Linked DNA regions of Homo sapiens. The protein of the gene in region 4 purifies or fractionates together with the protein of the main gene of each other region. This does not show direct contact. Each region holds a gene or a part of one and is shown on either strand. Other genes may lie near its edges. The genes, in order: FLNC, YTHDF3, PRKAG1, CAMKK2, OBSL1, SMC1A and IQGAP2.

Evidence for each region.
Region 1: the proteins of CAMKK2 (region 4) and FLNC purify together in Homo sapiens (affinity purification with mass spectrometry; one large-scale study listed by BioGRID and IntAct). This does not show direct contact.
Region 2: the proteins of CAMKK2 (region 4) and YTHDF3 purify together in Homo sapiens (affinity purification with mass spectrometry; one large-scale study listed by BioGRID and IntAct). This does not show direct contact.
Region 3: the proteins of CAMKK2 (region 4) and PRKAG1 purify together in Homo sapiens (affinity purification with mass spectrometry; 2 studies listed by BioGRID and IntAct, with this or other methods). This does not show direct contact.
Region 5: the proteins of CAMKK2 (region 4) and OBSL1 purify together in Homo sapiens (affinity purification with mass spectrometry; 4 studies listed by BioGRID and IntAct, with this or other methods). This does not show direct contact.
Region 6: the proteins of CAMKK2 (region 4) and SMC1A purify together in Homo sapiens (affinity purification with mass spectrometry; one large-scale study listed by BioGRID and IntAct). This does not show direct contact.
Region 7: the proteins of CAMKK2 (region 4) and IQGAP2 purify together in Homo sapiens (affinity purification with mass spectrometry; one large-scale study listed by BioGRID and IntAct). This does not show direct contact.

The regions. Positions count from the first base shown.
Region 1 is NC_000007.14:128,854,406-128,857,088, reverse strand, and holds part of FLNC (filamin-C), read right to left. Parts: intron 2,677-2,683; coding exon 2,407-2,676; intron 2,315-2,406; coding exon 2,177-2,314; intron 1,891-2,176; coding exon 1,775-1,890; intron 572-1,774; coding exon 439-571; intron 345-438; coding exon 168-344; intron 1-167.
Region 2 is NC_000008.11:63,171,621-63,175,120, forward strand, and holds part of YTHDF3 (YTH domain-containing family protein 3), read left to right. Parts: intron 1-1,032; exon of another isoform or gene 1,033-1,120; coding exon of another isoform or gene 1,121-1,178; intron 1,179-2,030; exon of another isoform or gene 2,031-2,061; intron 2,062-3,500. UniProt on the Homo sapiens protein: Specifically recognizes and binds N6-methyladenosine (m6A)-containing RNAs, and regulates their stability. M6A is a modification present at internal sites of mRNAs and some non-coding RNAs and plays a role in mRNA stability and processing.
Region 3 is NC_000012.12:49,012,277-49,015,776, forward strand, and holds part of PRKAG1 (5'-AMP-activated protein kinase subunit gamma-1), read right to left. Parts: intron 835-3,500; coding exon 786-834; intron 1-785. UniProt on the Homo sapiens protein: AMP/ATP-binding subunit of AMP-activated protein kinase (AMPK), an energy sensor protein kinase that plays a key role in regulating cellular energy metabolism.
Region 4 is NC_000012.12:121,286,710-121,290,209, forward strand, and holds part of CAMKK2 (calcium/calmodulin-dependent protein kinase kinase 2), read right to left. Parts: intron 1-3,500. UniProt on the Homo sapiens protein: Calcium/calmodulin-dependent protein kinase belonging to a proposed calcium-triggered signaling cascade involved in a number of cellular processes. Isoform 1, isoform 2 and isoform 3 phosphorylate CAMK1 and CAMK4. Isoform 3 phosphorylates CAMK1D.
Region 5 is NC_000002.12:219,558,040-219,561,539, forward strand, and holds part of OBSL1 (obscurin-like protein 1 isoform 1 precursor), read right to left. Parts: intron 1,459-3,500; coding exon 1,186-1,458; intron 421-1,185; coding exon 145-420; intron 72-144; coding exon 1-71. UniProt on the Homo sapiens protein: Core component of the 3M complex, a complex required to regulate microtubule dynamics and genome integrity. It is unclear how the 3M complex regulates microtubules, it could act by controlling the level of a microtubule stabilizer.
Region 6 is NC_000023.11:53,412,655-53,416,154, forward strand, and holds part of SMC1A (structural maintenance of chromosomes protein 1A), read right to left. Parts: intron 2,516-3,500; coding exon 2,327-2,515; intron 2,217-2,326; coding exon 2,104-2,216; intron 782-2,103; coding exon 578-781; intron 485-577; coding exon 246-484; intron 1-245. UniProt on the Homo sapiens protein: Involved in chromosome cohesion during cell cycle and in DNA repair. Central component of cohesin complex. The cohesin complex is required for the cohesion of sister chromatids after DNA replication.
Region 7 is NC_000005.10:76,672,285-76,675,784, forward strand, and holds part of IQGAP2 (ras GTPase-activating-like protein IQGAP2), read left to right. Parts: intron 1-1,164; coding exon 1,165-1,305; intron 1,306-1,667; coding exon 1,668-1,752; intron 1,753-2,192; coding exon 2,193-2,425; intron 2,426-3,500. UniProt on the Homo sapiens protein: Binds to activated CDC42 and RAC1 but does not seem to stimulate their GTPase activity. Associates with calmodulin.

The DNA.
Region 1 (2,683 bases), on a different chromosome or scaffold from region 4:
CAGGAAGGGCTTGTGGCCCAAGAGGGACTGGGCCCCAGCTCCCTGGACAGCCTCTGTGGGGACTCCTGGCTTAGGAAGCAGGGCCCCTACCTCTGGAGCAAAGCAGCACCAGACTAGTGGCCAAGCACCCCCAGAAGTCACCCTGTTCCCCAGCTCCAGGCACTCACCGGTAGTGCCTCCCTCGAGCCCAGGACCGTAGGCTGACACCAAGCCTGGGTCCCCAGCCTGGCTCTGCTCCCCAACGCGGATCTTGAAGGGACTTCCAGGGATGTGGGCACCGTTGAACTTGACATCGATGGAGTGGACGCCATTCTCGTGGGGGATGAAGCGGATGGTGTGCTTGTCTGTGGATAAAGGGTTGGTGGCTTAGCCTCCATCCTTCCCCTCCCCAGAAGGCCCCAGCCCGGAAGGGAGTTGGCAGGGGCAGGGCCAGCTCACCACTGTCCAGCTCAGAGACGTAGCACTCCTCCACAGCCCCCGAGGGTGTGTGCACCCGGGCATCAATCACGCCCCGGGCACCGTTCAGCTGCACGGCAAAGGACGCTGGCTGGTTCACCTTGAGCCCCGTCTCCTGCAAAGGCCACGGAGGATGCTCAGACTCCTGGGAGGCCGGGGCTGGAGCAGTCTTCTCTGAAGCCCCACACGGTGCTCACTGTAAGCCCAGCCCAAAGGCTGCTGCCACCCCATGCCCAGCCTGGCCCCTGCCTGCCAGCCCAGCCTGGGAGCAGGAGGAGCCAGGGTCCGGTATGCAACCCTATGTGTGCACCTGCTATCCTAGCTGTGCTTGGTGTGTGGGAGATGACAGACGATGTGCCCTGTCCTGGCTGAGGAAGGAAGGGCCCCACTCTGTGTGAAGCAGGCTGAGGGCGGAGGGCAAGTGCCTGATGGGCTGTGTGGGCTGGGGGTGCCAGAGAGCTCTGAGGTAGGAAGCTGAGTTTCACTGGCCTGGCCTGGGAGAGCTTCCTGGAGAAGGTGGACCAACAGGGAGGACCAGAAGAAGCACAGAAGGGCTCTGGGGGAGGGATTGGAGCCTGCATCGGGGAGCCCAGTTCAGGAGTGGGAGGAGGAGATGCACAAGGACTCTGGATGGGCCAATGTGACCACCCTGAGGGGCAGCCAGGAGGCGCGTGGGAGAAGGAGGTGGGGTGAAGCCCATTCTGTGCGCCTTATGCAGAAGCTCCTTTACAATGTGTCCCCTGGACACCTGGCCCCCTGGTTTGCATGTTTCAGTGTGACTTGCTGAAAGCCTTCCTTGCACATGTCCGCTGTGACAGAATGAAAGGAACACACCACATCTCTAGAAGTCAGCAGCAAGAGAAAGCAAGCCAGGCCCCCAGCGGCCTGAAGAGGATGCAGCCCAGGCTCTGCAGCCCATAGGCATTCCCTTTAGAGGAGCCTCTCACACCCTCTGTGCAAACTGGTTTACTCTTAGTTTGTATAGATTTTATGCTCTCATTCTTATAAATGTTGTCATCTAGCATTCTTACAACAGAAGGTGGAACAAACTGTAACAAGAAATGGCAGGTGGCAGTAGGACAGGCAGACACACCCTGAGAAAGGCAGAACGAGGCGTGGCATGCCTGAGTGCACGGGCAAGCCCCCAGGGTGGGAGCCCACCGTCCCCAAGGGCCCTGCCTCGTGCCTTATGAGAAGGGACTCCTAACTGGCCCTTCCAAGGTCACTGCTAAATCCCTGGCCCCATGGACCTGCTGTCCTCAACTCCTGCCCATCTCTCAGATAGCAGAAACCCTCCACCCCCACCCTGGGCACAAACCTGGAGGCTGGTGACAGTGAGACGGCGAGCGTCATCCGAGAGGGAGGCCACAGGCACCACAAAGGGGCTGTCTGGGATGTGCTCATCATTGAACTTGATGGAGACCTCATAGTCACCTGGGGAGAGAGACCAGTCAGCACAGGTTCCGGGATGGAGGTTGGCAGGGCGGGAGCCTCCCCACCCTGGCCTTATCCCAGGAAAGGCTCTGTGGTCAGCGCTCAGATCTGGAGGCAGACACATGTTTCTGAGGGTGTGGGGTAGAGGGAGACGGGGCAGAGGAAGAGCAGGGGGCTCCGGGGAGGGGAGTTCTGTGGCCCCAAGCATCTCCTGCCTGGCCAGTGGGCAGAAACCCAGTCTGGAAGGTCAGGCAGGCCCAGCCCCACTGCCAGTGTGGACGCCCACCTGGTTCCTGGACGACATAGGAGACGCCGCAGGAGCCATCTTTGCGATCCTCAAATGCAATCTCCGCTTTGCTAGGACCCTCCACAGCAATGGACAGGCCCCCAGCGCCAGCCTCCCGGGTCCAGATGCTGAACTCGGCTGGGGACAGGCAAGGTAGTGGACTTCAGCATCATCGCCCCTCACACTGGCTGCCCTGACTTCATCCCCACTCCTGGCCACCTGCCCCTTACCTGGCACGCCGGCCACACCTCGCTCCAGCCCTGTGCCTCCGGCCCGCACCTTGTGGGCACCACCTTCACCCAGCGGCCCCACAGTGAACTGAAAGGGGCTGCCGGGCACGTGCTGGCCACGGTACTTGACAGCGACCGTATGGGGCCCCATTTCCTGGGGCACAAAGCGCACGCTGTAGGCGCTGTCCTCGCCCTCGACGATCTCTGCGGCTTCCACCTTGCCCGATGGGCTGGTCACCTGTGCAGTCATGTCCTGAGAGCTGGCCTCACCTGCAGG
Region 2 (3,500 bases), on a different chromosome or scaffold from region 4:
TATGTGTGTATTTGAGAAAAGCTTTTCTGCCTTAGCTTGTTCCCAGCTCGTAAAATTGTTTTACAATTCTGTTTACTTTCATGAAGTTATTTTTCTTGAACTGCAACCTCAGTATTCTAAATATGAGTAATCTTGAATTCTGAACTTAGCAAGCTTATGAAAAATAGTATGTCCTTGAGAAGTTGGTGTCAGTTAAAGTTTTGAACACGTAATCCTTTTCAGTCAACTTACTATAATTTCAGAGATCCTGTTTCTTTTCTGAATTGTCTTTAGTTGACAGCTTTAGCCTAACACCTAGTTTTAGTGTCTTTGATTTTCTATATATCCTTAATTACTTAATTCATTACAGAAGCCAAAAGGAATTCTAAATAATTGTCTTTGATATGGCAAAAATGTTTTTTGTAGAATAAGTAATAATTCAAGGTTTACTTGTTTTATAAGTTTGAATTCTTTTTTAATTAAGTCTGTCCCTGTGTTAAATATCAGAACTCTTTATTATCCTTGGCAAGAGTAGTACCAAAGGATAGTAGAAATTTAAGGATAATTATTTGCCTATTGGTTCATAATTTAACACTTCGTATTTTATTTTTTTATTAAGTAGAATTTTTGCTTATTGGAATAAAGGTGTGCAGTACTTTTATTTGGGAGTACTATGGTTGGAAGTGTCAGATGCCATACTTACAGTCTTAGGCCTTACTGCCTCCTTTCTCCTCTAAGTTTATAAATAGCAAATTCATGGAACAGGATTTATCTTTTTCCTCCTCTCCGCTCTCTTCCAACGGAGAGACGTATGCATTGTTTTATACAACTGTAATTTAAAATAATTAGGTTAAATTTGGCTAAGTTTTAATTTTCGAAAAGTAGTGGAAAATGCCTTATATTTTGGCAATATTCTGTTGTATTCTCTCCTCGTCCTCCCGAGAAATGATTTCAAAGCACTTTACTATCATTATTTTAGGCTTCATTTTATCAATCCTCACAACATCCTTGTAAGGAGATAGCGGGTATATGGTATTGTCGCTGTTTTTGTAGGTGGGGAAACATGATGCACAGATCTGTTGACTTTCCTAACTTGATGTAGTCAGGACCAGAGCAAAGAATCACCTGGCTCCTAAGGCCCATGTTCTATCTTGATTTGACTCTGTTTCATAGAGCAGAGGAAACAGGCGAAGAATCATGTAAGTCATCTGTTCTTTTTACCCCTGAAGAAATTTTACAGACTATGGAACTAGCTTGGATTTCATTTCTATTTAATGGTTTTCAGACTCCAAGACATTAGCTTGTCATTAAGTAAATATTCAAAAACGAAAGTCTTTAAGATAGTTTTCTTTAAGATACACTTCCAAAACTTAAGGGCTAGTTTAATGCAAATTGCTTCTCGGTATATGTGAAGTACTTTTAATTAAACATTTTTTAAAGTAGATTGACTTTTTGTACTATATTTTAAGACTTTATAGACATTTATGCATCATTTAAAAATGACCGTAGACTGTATTTATAATAGTATATGGGTTGTTCTCAGGCCTAGCCTCTTAGAAGAGAAATAATAGAACAAAAAAAATAAGAATAACAGGATTATATTTATATATATATACAGATAAATTTTAAGTAAGTACTTTTTCCTTTTTTTTTTTTTAAATAGAGGCAGAGTCTCACTCTGTACCCCAGGCTGGAGTGCAGTGGCATAATCATAGCTCAGTGTAACCTGGAATGCCTTGGCTCAAGTGATCCTCCTTAGACTCCTGAGTAACTAGGACTATAGGCACATGCCACCACTCCTGGCTAATTTCTAAACATTTTTCGTAAAGGTGGGATCTTGCTGTGTTGCCCAGGCTGGTCTTGAGCTCCTGGCCTGGCACTTTTTGTATTTGTATGAACTAGATTTTCGAGAACCTAGTGGATATGAGAGATAGTTAGTCATAATTTTTAAGTTGTTAGCTGTTTCAAATACTGACTAACATGTATGAGTGTAATAGTGAAGAATTTTTTTTCAAGAAGTAATAGACCATGCATACTTACCTTTGATTTAGGAGCAGTAAAGCCAGTGTCAGAGGAGAACAGGTATGTCAGAATCTCTTGGACTGAAATGAATAACCCAGCCTTATAATGGCACTAGAAGTAACCTAAGGCACCCTCTTTATTTTGGTTTCTAGTGGCTATTACATATTTAAATTCCATGGAGCATATTTAGCTCAATCCTAGTTCTGATGCAGTCCTTATCAGACATAGTTAAATTATGTTAGTGGAGCCAGGATCAAGTTGACCTTCAGGTTGCTTCTTGTGGCCTCTGAGGGGCAGTGTGGTGTAGTAAGAAGTCTACTTTGAATGCTTTACACAGTAACATCATATCTTTGATCTTTGCCACTCATTGGATGGCAAAGATTTAAGGGATTTTGTATATCTTTGCTCCCAAGCCACTGTTAACTCATAATATTACATTTTAGGTGCTCTACACTCATGGGAAAATTTAAGGATAATAAAAATGTTATATTACAGAGGAATACGCAATTTAAACCCGTCACCCTCCTAACTTCATAAAATTTGGTGATGTTGTACCTTTGAGCAGTAAATCTTTAGATACTGAGTTCTTTTTGTTTCTAATTTGTAGACATCCATCGGAAACTTTCAACTTTATCTTCACTAGTATAGAATAGTATATTTACATAGTGCCACCTCATCAAGTATTAGCTTAGTAACACTTCTGTTTAAATGGTTCTAAAGTCATATTAGTCCTATTTGGATCTTGTAATATTTAATGTGATTACATTTAAGATTATTGAACACTGTCATTTAATAATCAGATGAGATGAGGTAGGTACTATTCATACATAACCTTCTGAAACAGCGAACAGTCAAAGGTTAGAGAGTTTAAATCCCTAACTGGAGATCATCTCCTCAGTGCTGGACTTGAGATTCAAATTCGGGACCTTACTTCTGAGTCTGCTCAAAAGCACTCTGAAACAGCATCCAGAGAATAACAACTTTAGAGTGTTTATGGAGATGACCTTTGAACAAAATTATTCTCTGACTTGTTTCTCATGTATTGCAAGGATAATTATGGCTATCTTTTGTGTCTTAATTTTGTTTGTAGTTTCATGTGAAAGTCTTCATTCTGGGGGGCTTAGAATTAAAGCCCTCTTTATTTAGATATTTCATAATTATAAGTCTATTCATTGTGATATTGTTTCAAGTTAATTTTAGCCTAAACTTTACTGGAGACATTTAAGACATTTACTATAACAAATTAGATCGAAAATAGTTATTTCATTCTTTATTATACTAAATAATTTAGAGATTTAAACAAAGGTAGAGAACATTCAGAAATCTTTTTTATTGCCTACAACGCTACTTGAAATAGTTATTTTACATTCAAATATAGCATTAGGGAACTCTTTCCAACATTCTTATGTAACAATTTACTCACTACAGTGTTGAGATTGGGATATTTACTTAAAGTTTTTGGTAAGGGGAAGTGTATATATGGCTTGTGTTTATGTAAT
Region 3 (3,500 bases), about 72 Mb from region 4:
TGGCCAGCATTGGAACTGTCTTCCCTGTGCTCTGGATTTTAGAGGTTTAGTGCTTCTATTACTAGATTAGTTCTAAGAGCCTTTTCCTAATTTTTTTCTTTCTTTTTTTTTTTTTTCTGAGACGAAGTTTCACTCTTGTTGCCCAGGCTGGAGTGCAATGGCACGATCTTGGCTCACTGCAATTTCTGCCTCCCTGGTTCAGGCAATTGTGCTTCAGCCTCCCAAGTAGCTGGGATTACAGGCATGCGCCACCACACCTGGCTGATTTTGTATTTTTAGTAGAGACAGGGTTTCACCAGGTTGGTCAGGCTGGTCTCAAACTCCTGAGCTCAAGTGATCCACCTGCCTCGGCCTCCCAAAGTGCTGGGATTACAGGTGTAAGCCACTGCACCAAGCCCTTTGCATAATTTTTGGTGTACATTCAGTGGCTTTAGTGAGCTTGCTGGGTGATAAAATCCTGGTAGCACTGTTTCTGGACTATGCAGAAAATACCCAGGACTTCTAAAACATGGTAGCCAGCCCAGAGTTGCCTATGGAAGTTTTGCCTGTACCTCAGATGTTTCTCTCAAGTGGTTTGATAATTGAAGATATTAATCATCCCCACTCTGCCCAAGATTTATTCCTGGGTGATCTTGCCAAACTACTGTCACTGATTTTTGTGGTTTGGCACATTATCTGGCCCTGCTTTGATTTTTCCAGGGGAGAGATTCAAAAGCATTGTTGAAGACATTGTTAGGGTCAGGCTATTGTTTTCATGCCCAGTTTCCTTTCTTCAGTAAACTTACCTTGAGGATGCTCATTTTCCACAGCTGGGGAGCTATCTGAAGAAATGACCTGGAGAGATAAGAAAACAGATTCAGCTTAACCTGGTTCCATCCATTTTAGCCTAGCAACATTAGGGGAAGGGCTGGTGAACAAATAATGACTTTCTTTAAAGCACTATAAAGCCACTGCCCCCGCCAAACCCTTTTTTTTTTGTTTTTGAGACAAGGTCTCGCTCTGTCACCCAGGCTGCAGTGCAGTGGTGTGATCACAGCTCACTTCAGCCTTGACCTCCTCGGGGTCAGGTGATCCTCTCTCACCTCAGCCTCCTGAGTAGCTGGGACTACAGGTGCAAGCCACTATACCCAGCTAATTTTTGTATTTTTAGTAGAGATGGAGTTTTGCCATGTTGCCCAGGCTGGTCTTGAACTCCTGGGCTCAAGTGATTGCCCTCCTTGGCCTCTCAAAGCACTACGATTACAGGCACGAGTTACTGCACCCAGCCTTATAAGGCTCTTCAGAAATATGATCTCATTTAATCTTCATAACAACCCTGAGGTAAATACTATTATTAGCCTTATTTTCACAGATTGTCTCTGAGGGTCAAGAGACATTAAGCAACTTGCCCAAGGTCACATGGCTGATAAGGGGTGGAGTAGGCATTCAAACACCTATCTTCTGGTTCCAGAGCTTGTGGTTTGCTTTTGTTTACATCAAAATTTTAATAAATAACATACTTGAAAAAACAAATTTTTAAAAAACTACGTATACCTAACAAAATAATTTCTTATAACTGATGAAGAGTTTGGTTGGGTTTATCTTGGCAGTGTTCATTTTTGTAAATTTTTTTGTTTGTTTTGTTTTGAGGCAGAGTCTTGCTCTGTTGCCCAGGCTGGAGTGCAGTGGCGTGATCTTGGCTCACTGCAACTGCCTCCTCCTGGGTTCAAGCAATTCCCGTGCCTCAGCCTCCTGAGAGCTGGAATTACAGGCGTGCACCACCACACCCACCTAATTTTCATATTTATAACAGAGATGGGGTTTTACCATGTTGGCCAGGCTGGTCTCAAACTCCTGACCTCAACTGATCTGCCCGCCTCAGCCTCACAAAGTGCTGGGATTACAGGCATGAGCCACCACGCCCGGCCATTTTTATAAAATTTTTGAATGTATTTACTCCATTCTGATGAAATTCTACCTCTCTGGAATCACAGAAGAGAAGAAACCAATACTGCTACAATATTGTGCCTTCCAGAAATGCTTCTATCCACTTCTGAGCTGAACGAGCATTATCTGCAAAGCTCATGTTCTTGTACACTATACTGCCTAATGAAACACTAGGTCCTAAAAGCTAAGACTAAAGATCTGAGCTTAGGGCTAACCCCTACAAGATTCTCACAGATCTACTTTATTAAAACATGGAAGCCAGAGAGACAGCATTGTCTTCCCCAAACACAGACACTCACTAGGCATAGTTGTAGGCACTAGAACCACAGACACTGGTTCCACCATTGTCTAGCTCCATGGCAGAGAGAGAGCCACAACTGGGGAGGATCCCAGTAGCTGACTGTCAGCCAGTCAAAACCTGAATGACTGAGAGGTGGATAAGGAACACGAATGTACTGAAACTGGGAACTTGAGTCCACTCAGCACCCTTGTGAGTCAAAGGCTGCTATAGCCAGGGGATGCTGGTTTTCCAAGTTTCCCTTCCCAAGATAGTCTGAGATTAGAGAGTGCTTTGACTAGACAAAACTTAGAACCATTTCTGTGCTCCCTCAAGTGGGAACATTTGGAAATGCCATTGTTATTTAGGAACCCAGAAGGGATCACAACAATTTTCATCTGCTAGCATCAACAGTCTTGGCTCCATTTTCTCTGGGTGATATCTCCAAAATAAAACCATACTTCATCCCCATAGCTTCTGTAGTAACATGACATTAAAAACTTCAACCTGGGAGGTTGGCTGACAAACTTCCTAAACCAGGGAAGTTTAAGACAGCCCTAAACTTTTCTCCCTTAATGGGCTAGGGGAGAGTGCAGGGAGTAAGGGGGATAATCTCCCTCTTCCCACTGGACTGCATAAGACTGTCAGCTTGGCCTGCCATTTTGGCAAGACTATCAGAACAACAGCCTCATCACTTATAAGTGGGAGAGAGGGCTGTGATAAAGATAGACACATGATATATCAGAGTCTCACAAAGATCTACACAAAGGCACAAAAACAGCTACTTCTGTAGAATTTACCCATCATATGATATATACTGTACTGTGCTACAGTTATTTTGTTCATTATCTATCCAAACAGATTATAAATTCCTGGAAACCTAGAACTATCTTATACTTTGTATCTCCCATACCACCAAGCACAGGGTTTTGCATATAATTCACAGTTGTTTTGTTTTTTAATTCTCAAAGAATGATGCACACTGATATGAACAGATATGCCCAAGACTAAGTTACAGAGGGAGGAAAGAAACATAGAGCTAACTAGAGATACAGATACCAACATAAGAGAGTCAAACACAACTGCATATGTGACTTTTTTTTTGGGCGGGTGGGCAGAGTCTCGCTGTGTCTCCCAGGCTGGAGTGCAGTGATGCGATCTTGGCTCACTGTAATCTCCGCCTCCGGGGTTCAAGCGATTCTCCTGCCTCAGCCTCCCAAGTAGCTGGGACTACAGATGCCTGCCACCACGCCCAGCTAAGTTTTTTTTTGTATTTTTAGTAGAGACGGGGTTTCAC
Region 4 (3,500 bases):
AATAGGTCCTGCTATTATCCCTGTTCCACCAGTGGGGAAACTGAGGCACAGAGAGCCTGGCTGACTTGCTCACAATCATCCAGCTTCTGAGTGCTTCAGGAGGGCACAAGTGTGAATGCTCACTATATAGAAGCTATTGCCAAGAAAGAACTTTGGCAGTTACTGAATTCACGACCCTCAGTTGGCTTCCTTTTTTTGGGGGGCGGGGCGGTTGGGGACAGGGTCTCACTCTATTGCCCAGGCTGGAATGCAGTGGTGCAATCATAGTTCACTGCAGCCTCGAACTCCTGGGCTCAGGTGATCCTCCCACCTTACCTCCCAAGTATCTGGGACTACAGGCATACACCACCACACTTGGCTAATTTTTTGTATTTTTGGTAGAGATGGGGTTTTGCCATGTTGCCCAGGCTGTTCTCAAACTCCTGGGCTCAAGTGATCCACCTGCCTCAGCCTCCCAAAGTGCTGGGATTATAGGCATGAGCCACTGTGCCTAGCTGGTTTCAATTTATTTTAAAACGAAATCTCTTAAATCTCTAATCCTGCCGTGCTAACTCTTCATCTTCCCCTCTAGCCCTTGTCCATATGCATCACATTTTACAAAATTAAAAATAGCGTATGCATATCATTTCACATCCTTGCTTCCATGTGTCATAAGAGCACATTCTCACATGGCTTTTGCAATCAGCGCAACAGAGGCTGCAGATGGAGTCACCGAGACTCAGAGAAGTTGAGATGACCTCATCCAGGCAGCCCAGCAGGCTCGCAGTTGGGCCAGGAGGAGATCCAGGTGGCCTGCCCTGCAGCCCAGTGACCCTTGAGGCCCTGGATACTCACAGAGTAAGCAGTTCCCCTGTCTTGCTGCTTGCCAGGGCCAACTGTCTTAAGAATTCTTAGGCAGCTATTACTTAGTCAGTAATGAAATATCACTGAAAGAATGGCCCCAGTCACGCAGTCAGACATCTAAAGCCAGCTGTGGGCCAGGTACAGTGGTGGCTCACGCCTATAATGCTAGTGCTTTGGGAGGCCGAAGCAGGAAGATCGCTTGAGGCCAGGATTCGAGACCAGCTTGGGCAACACAGCAAGACCCCATCACCACACAAAAAAATGTTTACATTAGCCAAGTGTGGTGCTGCACACCTGTGGTCCCAGCTCCGTCAGAGGCTGAGGTGAGAGGATCCCTTGAGGCCAGGAGGTTGGGGCTGTACTGAGCTATGATTGCACCATTGCATTCCAGCCTGTGCAACAGAGAAAGGCTCTGTCTCGAAAATTTTTAAATTTAAAAAATATAAATAAAAATAAAACCAGGTGTGCATGGGTGGCCCCAGCCTTGAAGTGTGAGGAGCTTACGAATGTGTGGGTGAGTTTGGGTATGTGTTTAGAGGAGGGAGGTATTTGGAAATAAAGTGTAGAAACCATCTTCCTTCCTTCCTCTTCCCCCACTGCATCCCTCTCAATCTTTCACTGAACCAAAGGAAGAGGTTGGAAAACAACTGGAATTTCAGTTTGTAATGAACAAGAAAAAGACTTCTACCCAGCATGCTCTTGGCAAATCAGAGATGGAGAGGGCCAGCTCGAAACCCACAGGCATCGGTGCCTGGGCTACCCACGGCCCCTCTCCCTCCCTCCTCCCCACCTTTTGGACATCATGCTAAATCTAGCTGCAAGCCTCCTCAGCTGAGGGACAAGAAGAGTGCAGGGAGCCAGCTCTGCAGCTCTGCGGGGCCCAACGTCCCCACACCTGGACCTAGAGGGCAGAACTGTCCAGGATGAACCGAATAAAATATTTCTCTGCCAGAAGCCTTGAAGGCAATACCCCAAAGCACATTTCAAAAATGAAAAAGGGAGTGTGCTCTCCCTTCTGCACCCTGGCCCCCGCAAAACACTGGTTCCCCATTTAAACTTCTCTAACAGAAGCTTCTCTCAGGCACCACCCACAATGCTCCTACCCCACCCGCTGGGTTCCTGCCTCATGCCTAAGCCACGTGGGCAGAGGGGCAACACCTTGGCCTCCCCACTGACTCCCACCCCCCTTTCCTCCGAGGACCACCATCCCTCTCTTTTCCAGGTTGGGATTAGCATTTTTATCTCTGCAACTGCCATCTCTCAACTATTTACAGAAGCCACCAGGATAAAAAGAGGCAACATAAAAATAGTTGCTCAGCAGCTTTCAGGATGGGGTGGGGTGGGGGTGGGGGCACTACAGAATCTTCTCATTTTCTTTCATTCCTTTTCAAAAGGGAAAGGATGTCAGAATTGTTCATCTTTTCCAAAAGGCTCTGAGACCACTCACCTGGGACAGGAACCAAGTCCCAGTATTTCTCAGTTCCCCAGGGTATAGCCTGTCACCAGCACCAATCCCCCCACCCCACCCCAACCAAAAGAGCGGGCTGGGTGAAGGGTCGAGCCTGCAGAGCCAGGGCGCCCCACTCTGCCCCGTTTCCGTCACCTCCTGGGCCTCCTTCCAGCTTTCCAAAAAGCGAGCCAGTTTAAAAAAACAAAGCAAAACTTTGGCTTTTCTCTATGCTTAAAATGTTTCATAATTGAAAAAAAAAAACTTCAGTGGCAATACTACAAACATGACTGAAACCGAAACACTGGCAGCTAAAATAATCCCTTTCCCATTTGGATCACTAACGTCCCCAACGGGGAAAGCAGCAGCCAGGGGTCTTCCCTACAAAATCTAACAGAACTCACATCATTTTAAAGATGTCTTTTTTATTATTATTATCTTGGTTTTGTTGAGAAAGGGGTCCAATCAGGGAAGAAAACAAATAATAATTCTAAATCTTATTTCTCAGAGCCCAAAACTATTCGGAAATGCTTTCCATCCCATAACCTGCCAGGGAAGGTGGACTCCACTCCATCAGAAAACGAGCATAATTTGCCAGTACAAGGAGCCAAAGTTGGGAGCGATGGCTCATGCCTGTAATCCCAGCACTTTCGGAGACTGAGGCGGGCGGATCACCTGAGGTCAGGAGTTCGAGACCAGCCTGGCCTACATGGTGAAACCTCGTCTCCACTAAAAATACAAAAATTAGCCAGGCGTGATGGGACGTGCCTGTAATTCCAGCTACTTGGAAGGTTGAGGCACGACAATCGCCTGAACCCAGGAGGCAGAGGTTGCGGTGAGCTGAGATCATGCTACTGCACTCCAGCCTGAGAGACAGAGCAAGACCCTGTCTTTAAAAAAAAAAAAAAAAAAGGCGGGGCGGGGAGCCAAGGGAGGCCTAAGACCTCAGGAAGAGAAGGTACATCAGGAAAGGATACAGATCCCAGAGGACCTTGAGCCTTGATTTTCTCATCTGTGAAATGGTGCCAGACCTACCTAAGAGGGTGGCTATAGAGTTGATCTTCTCTATGGCAGTCCCTAGTACACAGCGTGGCTCAAGCTAATTGTTCCGCAAAGATCACGTCCTCCCTTCCTTTCTGTACTCCGCTTCCCTTGTCTGGAACATGGAAGGGTTCAGGAGCTGATCTCTGCTGGCCTTCCTCTCAGGCCA
Region 5 (3,500 bases), on a different chromosome or scaffold from region 4:
CACTGGCTCCCCAGGGGCCACACAGAGCGGGCTTGGAGTTGTCTCTAGAGCAAGGAACTGCACTGGAGGCTCTGGAGAAGAGAGGAAGGTGTCATCCCATGCTTGCCCTTGCCTCCCTGCCCTGGGTTGGCCAGGAGCACCCACCAGCCAGGATGACATTGAAGGTGATGGCCTCATGCCGGGTCTCACACACATACTCCCCGGCGTCCTCAGGCTGGGCGTGGGGCAGGGTCAGGGTGCGGGTGGGCCCCTCGGCACCCAGCTGCAGGGCATCTGATGCCTCCACTTCCAGCCCGTCCTTGTACCAGCGCACCTGAGACCCAGCTGGGGCCACCTCACAGCGCAGCTCCACGCGCCCTGGAGCCCCAAAATGCAGATCCAGGGAGCGGGCTGCCGGGTGCACAATCCTCTCTGGTGGGGCTGGTGGGTGGGCATGGAGAGGGGCACATAGGCTTGGCCAGCAGGCCTCTCCTGCCTCACCCGCCAGATCCTCAGCCCTCCCCACTGGCAGCACAGCTCTTGAGAACAGTGCCAGCTGCAGTCCATGGAGCAGCTGCTGTGTGCCAGGCACTGTCCTAAGAACCCTGTGTTTTTTCAATCAGTTACTCTGACCACCCTCAAGAGGTGCACAGCTGCTGGCTGCACTTCATGGCTGAGGACCTGAGGCCTCTTTAGAAGAAACTGACTTGCCTAAGGTCACACAGACAGAAAGAGGCAGATCTAGACTCACACCCAGATCTACACACCCCACTCCACACCCATCCCCACTTCCTATCCCCTTTCCCTGCCTTGCCTCTGATGCACTTGTTACCACCTGACAAACCATCTCTTTTATTTTTTGTCTGTCCACCCTCACCAGAGTTTAAACTCTGTGAAGACAAGAGGTTTAGTCTTATTGGTTCACTGCTGTATCCCCAGCATCTAAAACAGTGCCAAGCACATAGTAGTTGCTCAATGAGTATTGAACGAATGGATGAATGAACGAATGGTTCTAATTGCTGGGCACCCTCCCACCAGGCCTCTGGTCCTGACCTGATGTGGCTAAGCAGGATTCTGATGGCCAAACATGAGGAAGCTGGATAAGGGGAAGGCTGGGGATGGGGTGGGGGAGGTGGGGCTAGGTGGGTGTCTGTCCCTTAGCCCCCTACCTCTCTACCTCCTCTCTGTGCTGCAGAGACTGCCCACCTGTGACAGTGACAGTGAAGAAGGCCGAGTCATCTCCAGCATCACATACAAACTCGCCCCCGTCCTCGGGCTGAGCAGCAGGTAGCACCAGGCGGCAGCGTGGCCCATCCCTCTCCAGCACCAGGGCCTCGCTCTCCTCCACTTCCAGCCCATCCTTGTACCAGCGCACAGGGGCATCCTCCCGAGACAGTTCACACATCAGCACCACACACTCCAAGGTCACGGCGATCAAGGTCACCTCATCGCGAGGGTATATGATCCGCACTGGGGGTTCTGCAGGGTGGGGACAACCACAGCCTGTCACAAGCTCACCGTCAGCCTCTCTGGAGCCATTCGGCAGCATGAAGTCCCTATCACCCACATAATAATGAGAATAATAAGTAAAATAATAATAAGCAATAATAGGTCCACAGTTTGTTCTCTGAAATCCCTGGGGCCAGAGGGTGTTACAGAATCCAGAATGCTTTGGATTCCAGAAATGATGCGTTTCTCATCTATCACATACCTTCCTCAGCCCCCACGGGAGCCTCCCCCTTCATCGGTCACGTTAACATGTCTGTGGTATAACACATACTACATTCACCCTAAGCAGGATAGATTGAAAGATACAGAATCTTACAGATACAAGCATATATCTATAAGACACTCATATCTTATAGATATACAGCTATAGCTATATTCACCCTCAGCAGGATAATTAAAGCATAGAAATAGCTTCAGAGCAATCAAGCTCAGGTTTTCCTGAAATGACTTGGAATACAAAACTTACAAAAAGCCTTTTGATTTTGAGAGTTTTGGAATTTTGGAACCATGGATAAGGGATGGTGGATCTACAATAGCAAACATTGATATGACACTTCCTAAGGTCCAGGAACAGTCCCAAGCACTTGAAACATTTAACTCTCACGGCAATCCTAAGAGGAAGGTAGTGTTTTGTCCCCATTTTCCATATAAGGGACTGGGCACAGAGTGATTATACAACTTCCTTAAGGTCACAGCTGGCTACACCCACTCTGGGGCAGGAGGAGGAAATACCCTCTGTTAAAGGGAGGCTCAGACCCCACAGGTAGTGGCAGGAATTCCAAGCCAAGGCTTGCAGGAACTCAGTAATGCTTTTTGCATTCAACGTCTGTCTGAGAGTTCCCCAGGGGTGCTAAATGCTGATTCTGGGAGCTCATCTCCAAGTTCTGGTCACTCCTCTGCAGAAAGGGAACCATGTCAATATTAGAGGTGACCAGCGCATGGAGCCCAGGCCTGCCCACACCCCTGCTGCCCCCAGGTCCCCCCAGAATCTTCAAGTTTTGGGGCGACTACTGCTCCATTAGCCTCTGGCCCCCTGGTGGCTGGGCTGAGGAACTGCTAGCTTCCCAATCAGGGGCCAGGGTTGGGGGGGTGGGGGCTGGGGGTGGTTTATAGGGGCATGCATGGGCCGAGGTAACCACAAGCTCCCACTCAGCCCCCCAGCCTCCACGGAGACTCCTGCCTTGAGCCACACAACCCACCTCCCCCATGGGCTTGCTTGCTCTAAGGGTCTGGGGGATGCAGGCTGGTCCTCTGGGGCCGAGCAAGGCCAGGAGAGACCAGAATGCAGCTGCCTGAGGAGTGGGGAAGGTGATGAGGGCAGTGGGGTGAGGACAGGGTGCAGTGATGGGACCGGGTGGCTGCCCAGCCCCGGGACCTCAGCTTGGTGTCAGACTTGATTCGCTCTGGCCTAGAGCAGAGGTGGTGTTTGTGTGAACTTCCCTGTGAAGAGACTGGTGTTTGTGGGGAGCCTGAGCATGGGCTGGAGTTTGTGTGGCTGTGGCCATTCTGTCTGGCCATGGCTGGGTGGGAGAGGGTGAAGATGATTACGACAGGGCAGAATATGTGCAGAAGGCCTCTTAGGCATTGTGGGCTTGTGTGTGTAGAGTGCATTAGCTGGGGTGCAAGGAGCAGGGGGGCCCTAAACAGCTCTGCATGGGGCGTGACTTTCAGGGCAGGGCTGGGAGAGGACAGGACTGTGGCCGCAGTAGGATGGGGGCTCCAGTGCAGCCACTGGGGTTCTGTGCCCCCCAGAGCTGCCTAGCCCTATGGACCCCCAGCCCCAGACACACACTGGGCTGGGCGCTGTGAGCCGTCACCCCGAGGTCTCCGGCACTGAACCTCCGTCACTTCCACAGTTGTCCTGTGCTTCTCCCGCTTTGAATATTCCCCCACACCCCACCCCACTTAGCTCCAGTATCAGCTTTGAAAGCACTTCCTGTTGCCTGGCCAGGGTGGTGGCTCCCAGCCCCAGGGTCCCTAGACTGGCCCTCAACAACCCATGCTCTAAGATC
Region 6 (3,500 bases), on a different chromosome or scaffold from region 4:
TGGCAAGGCCACCACCCCTTTTGAGTTCTCCCTCATCTGAGCACCTGTCTACCCAGGGCCTGAGTGCTTAAATATTCTATTTGTCTAAACTGCAAGTCAAGAAATGTGCCTGGTTCTTACAAAAGCAAGTTAGGAGAATAACAGAGAAATGAGTATAGGTACTGAACTCCGGGCTCAGAGGAACCCTAATAAACAGCACGGCCTCTTGGTTTCCCACAAGTTGCAGGCCCAGGTCTGCCTCTTACTTGATCTCCTTCTCAATCTGCTGCTGCTCCCGCATCATTTTGCCCAGCTCCTTCTTCTTCTCCTTCAGTTCATCCTCCACCTTGTCCATACGCTTCTTGTCCTTCTCGATCTCCTTGTTCTTTGAGGCCAGTTCCTTGTTGAGCTTCTCAATTTCCACTTCATTATGGTAAAGCTTAAAGAGCTGCAGCTGTACCTGAGCCCGTACTACCTCATCCTTCAGGCGCTGGTACCGGTCAGCCTGTGCAAACAGGGGAATGGTGGCAGGGGTGCATCGATAAGGCACTGGCTCCATCCTGGTCCCTCAGAGCCAAGAGGTAGCTTGGCCACCTACCTCTTCTTTCTCCTGCTTTGCTTCCTTGCGTTCAGCCGCAATATTTTTCTTGCGATGGTAATTAAACTGTGTGTCCTCTTCAGCCTTCACCATTTCCTTCTTTCGCTTGTCATACTCCTGCGCCAGCTCCCCAGAACGACTAATCTCTTCAAATAGAGCTGTCCTCTCTTTGGGGTTCTTCATGGCAATAGATTCCACAGCACCCTAGTAAAGGTCGAAACACTCTTCCACTTCAGACCCCAGCCAACCCAGTTCACCTTACCCATTTCCACTCCTTCACCCAGAAAAAGTTACCAACTTTCTCTCCCATGCCCCTGCTGCCACATTTCACACTGGGCTTTGAGGACAAATTCCTTGCCCTCTGAGGAGCACAGGGAGCCAAAGGGACAAAGACAACAAAGTGTTATGTGCAGTAACAGAAGCAGCATAGGAAAAGGACAAAATGAAGCTTGGGGGTAGGAGACTGATAGGGATATCTATCTCAGAAGGCTTCCCAAAGGTGACATCTGTGCTGAGTTTGGAAGCTGGAGGGAAACTAACCAAGAAAATAAAAGAAAAAAGGTGGCCGGGCGCGGTGGCTCACACCTGTAATCCCAGCACTTTGGGAGGCTGAGGCAGGCAGATCACCTGAGATCAGGAGTTCAAGACCAGCCTAGCCAAAATGGTAAAACTCCATCTCTACCCAAAATACAAAAATTAGCCAGGCATGGCGGCGGGCGCCTGTAGTCCCAGCTACTTGGGAGGCTGAGGCAGGAGAATCACTTGAACCCTGGAGACGGAGGTTGCAGTGAGCCAAGGTCGTGCCACTGCACTCCAGCCTAGGTGACAAGCGAAACTCCGTCTCAAAAAAAAAAAAAAAAAACAAGAACAAAAAACAAACAAACAAAAAAAACAGAGAAAAAGTTATTCTATGAAGAGGAAAAGTAATATGCAAAGACCTGTAGGCCAAAGAAAGCAGGTGAATTTGCAGAACCATAAATGGTTTAAGTAGGCTGGAGTGCAAGGCTGGAGAAGAACATGCAGATGGTATTTGGATTTTGATGATGGTGTTTCCTAAATGATAGGCTTAGGAGTTTGGATCTCATCCTAAGGCAATAGTTCTCAAATTTCGGCCGACATCATAATAAACTGGAGAGCTTGGTAAAACACAAACTGCTGTGCCCCACTCCACAGTTTCTTCCAAGTCAGGAAGTCTAGGATAGGGCCTGAGAATGTGCATTTTCTAACATGTTACCAGGTAATGCTGATACTGCTGGTCTGGAGACTACAGTTTAAGAACCACCATTGTAAGGCAATACGGAATCACTGAAATGTTTTAAGGAAAAAAGGGAGGGGAAACAAAACAAATGTGTGTCCTCATAAGATGAACCTGGCTCAGGGGCCAGACTGAAGTTGGGAAGCTCAGTGAACAAGGTGCTACATTAGTTCAAGGGAGAGATGATAAAGCCTGAGATGGAGCAGACAGAGTGGGGATGGGACATGGTCTGGCAAAAACCAGATAGCCAATAACTGTTAAAAACGCCCACCTGGAAAACGAGGAAGTTACGAGCTTTGATGAGAATGCCCAACTTCTCTAATTCCTCACTGTACTCATGTAGTTGGACCACTTTGTTGTTGATCTTGTACTCAGAAGAACCTCCTACAAGACAATGCATGAGTTGGCAAGGGTCAGGCCTCCTTCCTGTCCCAATCAACTAGTCTAGCCACCTCCCAGGACCCAAGGAGAGCTTTCTGGCCAGCCTCACCCACCTACAATGACACGGGCAAAGGTACGGTCCTCAGCACCCTCCTCAGAGTAGACCATGCTGACAAAGGCCCGGTTGGCAGCTGGCTTGCCCACAGGAGCTCCATGGATCAGGTCCCGCAGGGTCTTTACCCGCAGGTTGCTGGTTTTTTCACCTAGCACAAAGCTGATGGCATCCATGAGATTTGACTTACCTAAGGGAAGAGGGACGAGGCAGTAGAGGGAAAGTCAGGATGAAGAGGAGAGGAAAAGGAATAAAGATATTGAGATGAACAAAAATGTCCCCTAATCACTCAGTACTCAGACTAATGGGAAGAGAGACTACTCCTCTGTCCCCATAAAGACTGAGCACAACCAAACCTCTGGGTCAAAGGCTTAGGAAAAACAGTCCTTTTGCAGTTACTATATAGCAGCCAGAAGCTAGAACCCAGGATAAGCGTAGTGACTCACACCTGTAATCCCAGCACTTTGGGATGCCGAGGCAGGAAGATCGCTTGAGGCCAGGAGTTTGAAACCAGCTTGGACAACAAGGCAAAACCCAGTCTCTACAAAAACTTTAAAAATTAGCTGGGCATGAGCTACTCGGGAGGCTGAGGCAGGAGAATTCCTTGAACCTGGGAGGCGGAGGTTGCAGTGAGCCGAGATCGTGCCACTGCACTCTAGCCTGGGCGACAGAGCGAGACTCCATCTCAAAAAAAAAAAAAAAAAATTAGCTGGGCATAGTGGCATGCGCCTGTAGTCTCAGCTACTCAGAAGGCTGAGGAGGGAGGATCGCTTGAGCTCAAGAGTTCAAAGCTGCATGAGCTATGATGACACCACTGCACTCCAGCCTGGGTGACAGAACAAGACTCTCTTTAAAAAAATAGTGAAAAAAAAAAAAAAAGAGGAAAGAATAGTTTAAAAAAAGAAGCTAGAACCCAATCTAAAGAAATGGTATATTCACAGAATGGATAGTTTTACAACCTTTAATGACATGGACAAAAGCCCACAATAGGTGAAACAAACAAGACACAAAACTCAACGATGTTAAAATAATATAAAGTGGGCCGGGCATGGTGGCTCACGCCTGTAATCCCAGCACTTTGGGAGGCTGAGGCAGGTGGATCACCTGAGGTCAGGAGTTCAAGACCAGCCTGACCAATATGGTGAAACCCTGTCTCTACTAAAAAATACAAAACT
Region 7 (3,500 bases), on a different chromosome or scaffold from region 4:
ACGTACTTTTCTTTACAGTTACCAGGCAAGTAACTTTAAGGTGTAAGGTTTAACAATCCAGGTTGGATTGGCTTATTCTGGGTGGGTGGTTGTAGATTTAAGCAACCCTAGCTTCTTGTTTCCTGTAAAAGGATGTCTGTGAAATAAAGTGTACACAGAGAATTATGTAATTATGTGGGTGGTTGTTACAGTACTGTTTGTAATAATAAAAAGTCAGGAAAAGTCAAAATATTTAGCTTTGAGGGATTTGTTAAATAAATGTTTGTATAGCACATAATGGAATAAGTATTTGGAATCGTGGTATAGATATACATTTGTTGGCACAGAAAAAAATGTTCAGGGTATATATTCCAGTTGGAGTTAGGTGCAATAACCCATTTTTCTGGGAAAAGAATGCTCATTACATACGCCACACAGGATCTGTATAGAATGTCGATTACACAAATTGCATTACACCCATCAATATGCGAGGCCCACAGACATACATGCACAGAGGAGATTGGACAGTTATGCACTAAGGTATGAAAATTGGTTGTCCCAAACACCGCATATTCTCACTCATAGGTGGGAATTGAACACATGGACACAGGAAGGGGAACATCACACTCTGGGGACTGTTGTGGGATTGGGGGAGGGGGGAGGGATAGCTTTAGGAGATATACCTAATGCTAAATGACGAGTTAATGGGTGCAGTACACCAGCATGGCACATGTATACATATGTAACTAACCTGCACATTGTGCACATGTACCCTAAAACTTAAAGTATAATAATAATAAAATAAAAAATAATTAATTTAAAAAAAAGAAAAGAAAATTGGTTGTCCTCTCTGGTATTGTTTTAGATTATATGTGATTTTATTTTTCTGTAATGAACATTTGCTTTTTATAATTAAAAGAAATTTAGCTGAGTCTAAATTACCTGGGTCTGCCTCTTATCTTGCCAGAAGAGACCAGAGGGAAGGCCTCAAGTCCTTCCTGTTCCAAGTTGCAGAAGGTACCCTCTGTGAAGGTGGAGCCTCCCCTCATTTAGTAAACATTTTGTTACTGGAGTCAGTGGCAAAGTCCAATTCACTATACAAAGCTTGACTATAGAACCAACTTGGCAGCAAAATTAATGCTTGTACCTAAGCCTCCAGTTAATTTAAAGCCTTTGTGTTTTCAGCAAGTTGCCTTATGATGTGACCACAGAACAAGCTCTAACATACCCAGAAGTGAAAAATAAACTGGAGGCTTCCATTGAGAACCTGAGAAGGGTCACCGACAAAGTCCTGAATTCTATCATTTCTTCCCTTGATCTACTGCCGTAAGTTGTACTTGCAGCAAGTTTAACATTCTTTCCTGGAACGTTCTTGGAATACGATGTAAAATAAGCCCCTGTAGTGAAGACAGCAGTTTTCCCTTATATTGTGTTTACTATTTTAAAAGATTGCCTACATTTACCTTTTAAATTCCTGACTGTTCTCTAAAGAAGGGGCAATACTTCAGTAGCAAACACAGCTCAGTTATTATCATCAGTGGAAGTCCTGTGATTCCATTACCATCTCATCTTATGTTTAATTTTTAGAAAAACTACTCAGCTGAAGTTGACTGGAACAATTGCTGTGTGTTTTTTCCTCACTCCGCCTTTTTTCCATTATTTTCTTTTGTCATCTGTTTTATATGTAGTTATGGATTGAGGTATATAGCCAAAGTACTGAAGAATTCGATCCATGAGAAATTCCCCGATGCAACAGAAGATGAGCTATTAAAGGTAGATTTTCAAGGGTAATCTCACCATAGCTTCTCCTGGGGGTATGAATCAAAATTACCAACATATAACTTTGTAAGATTATTCCCCATGTATGATTATTTATAATAAGCTGCAGGTCTTCTGTTTCTAATGACTCTCAAGATAATTGATTAAGCTGAGGTTAATTTGGAGATCCTAGACATTATTGAAATTCTTTGCATTAGAGCATTTTGGGGGCAATGAGCATTTTTTCATCAAAAATAACTTTGCAAATTATGCTATTAATAATGTGTGATTATATTCATTGCCTTTATTAAACTCCTTGTTAGGATTTACATCAGAAAATGATCTGCTTTCTCTTGGGAAATGTAGGAGAATATATATCTTTAAAAAAAAAAAGAAAACTAAAACTCTTGAGTTTTCTCTCTTAAAAATGGTCATGCACTTCTGCGTCACTCCAGATTGTTGGAAACCTCCTGTACTATCGGTACATGAATCCAGCCATTGTAGCTCCAGATGGCTTTGATATCATCGACATGACAGCTGGAGGTCAGATAAATTCTGACCAAAGGAGAAACTTAGGATCAGTGGCCAAGGTTCTTCAGCACGCAGCCTCCAACAAGCTGTTTGAAGGAGAAAATGAGCATCTCTCATCTATGAACAATTATTTATCAGAGACGTATCAGGAATTCAGGTGAGAGGGGCCCTTAGTTTTGGAGAAACGTGCAAGAATGGTAGGCAAGAATAATATGTGCTCTGTGCCCAGAGCTAGAGTGGGCATGGAGGACAGGAACCCCAGGTGGTTACAAGCATTTCTTCTACCAGCCACTGGGGAAAGAGGAGAGAGGGAAGTGCAGGCAAGATTGCCTCTGTCTGGCGATCCTATCGCACCCCCACCACAGCACTCCTATTACACTGAGTCTTTTCTGTGTGTATTATTTCTGCTGCTGACAAAATGGCATACTTGTTCTTCCTTGTATGCTACAGGCTTCCAGTACCTAGAATTTAAAAATCAAAATAGCAGATTTCTGCTTCTTTCAACTTAAGAAGAGAGGAATCATTTTTAAAAAGTTTTCCGGTGAGGAAGAACTTGCTTATCTACGTCAGATACATTTGACCCTTGATTAACACAGGTTTGAACTGCTCGGGTCTATTTATATATGGATTTTTTCAACCAAAGACAGAGAGAAAATACAGTATTCATGGGATGCAGAACCCACATATACAAACAGATGACTTTTCACATACATGGGTTCCACAAGGCCAATTTCAAACTTGAGTATGCACAAATTTTGGTGTGTATGGGGGTCCTGGAACCAATCCCCCAAACATACCAAGGAACGACTGTAGTAGGAAATGGAATACTTGATTTTGAAAGGTTAGGAAAACCCAGATTTTATATTTGTTGATGATTGTGTATGTGAATATGTTCTGTTCTATTCTCAAGCCTTTCTTAATGACACATGTAAGAAGATTTAATTCTATTGATTTTGTGTTTCCAAATTATATCACTAATCATTAACAAGAAAGGCATGAGTCTGGTAGTCAGATTCACTCCTCCTGGAGCTCTGAGGAAACACTTTCCTCTTGTCATGTTTGTTCTCATGTCTGCCATTTAATCAACAGGCCATAGAAGTGTAACATCAGTTTGGCCTCTTTTAATCCTCACTTGGAAACTCATTTCTCATTCCTCGGTCTCCCTTGGAGTGAGTGACTTACTAGAAAACAAAGGTAGTTCATGATTATTCATTTCTATTTAGAATTTGTGG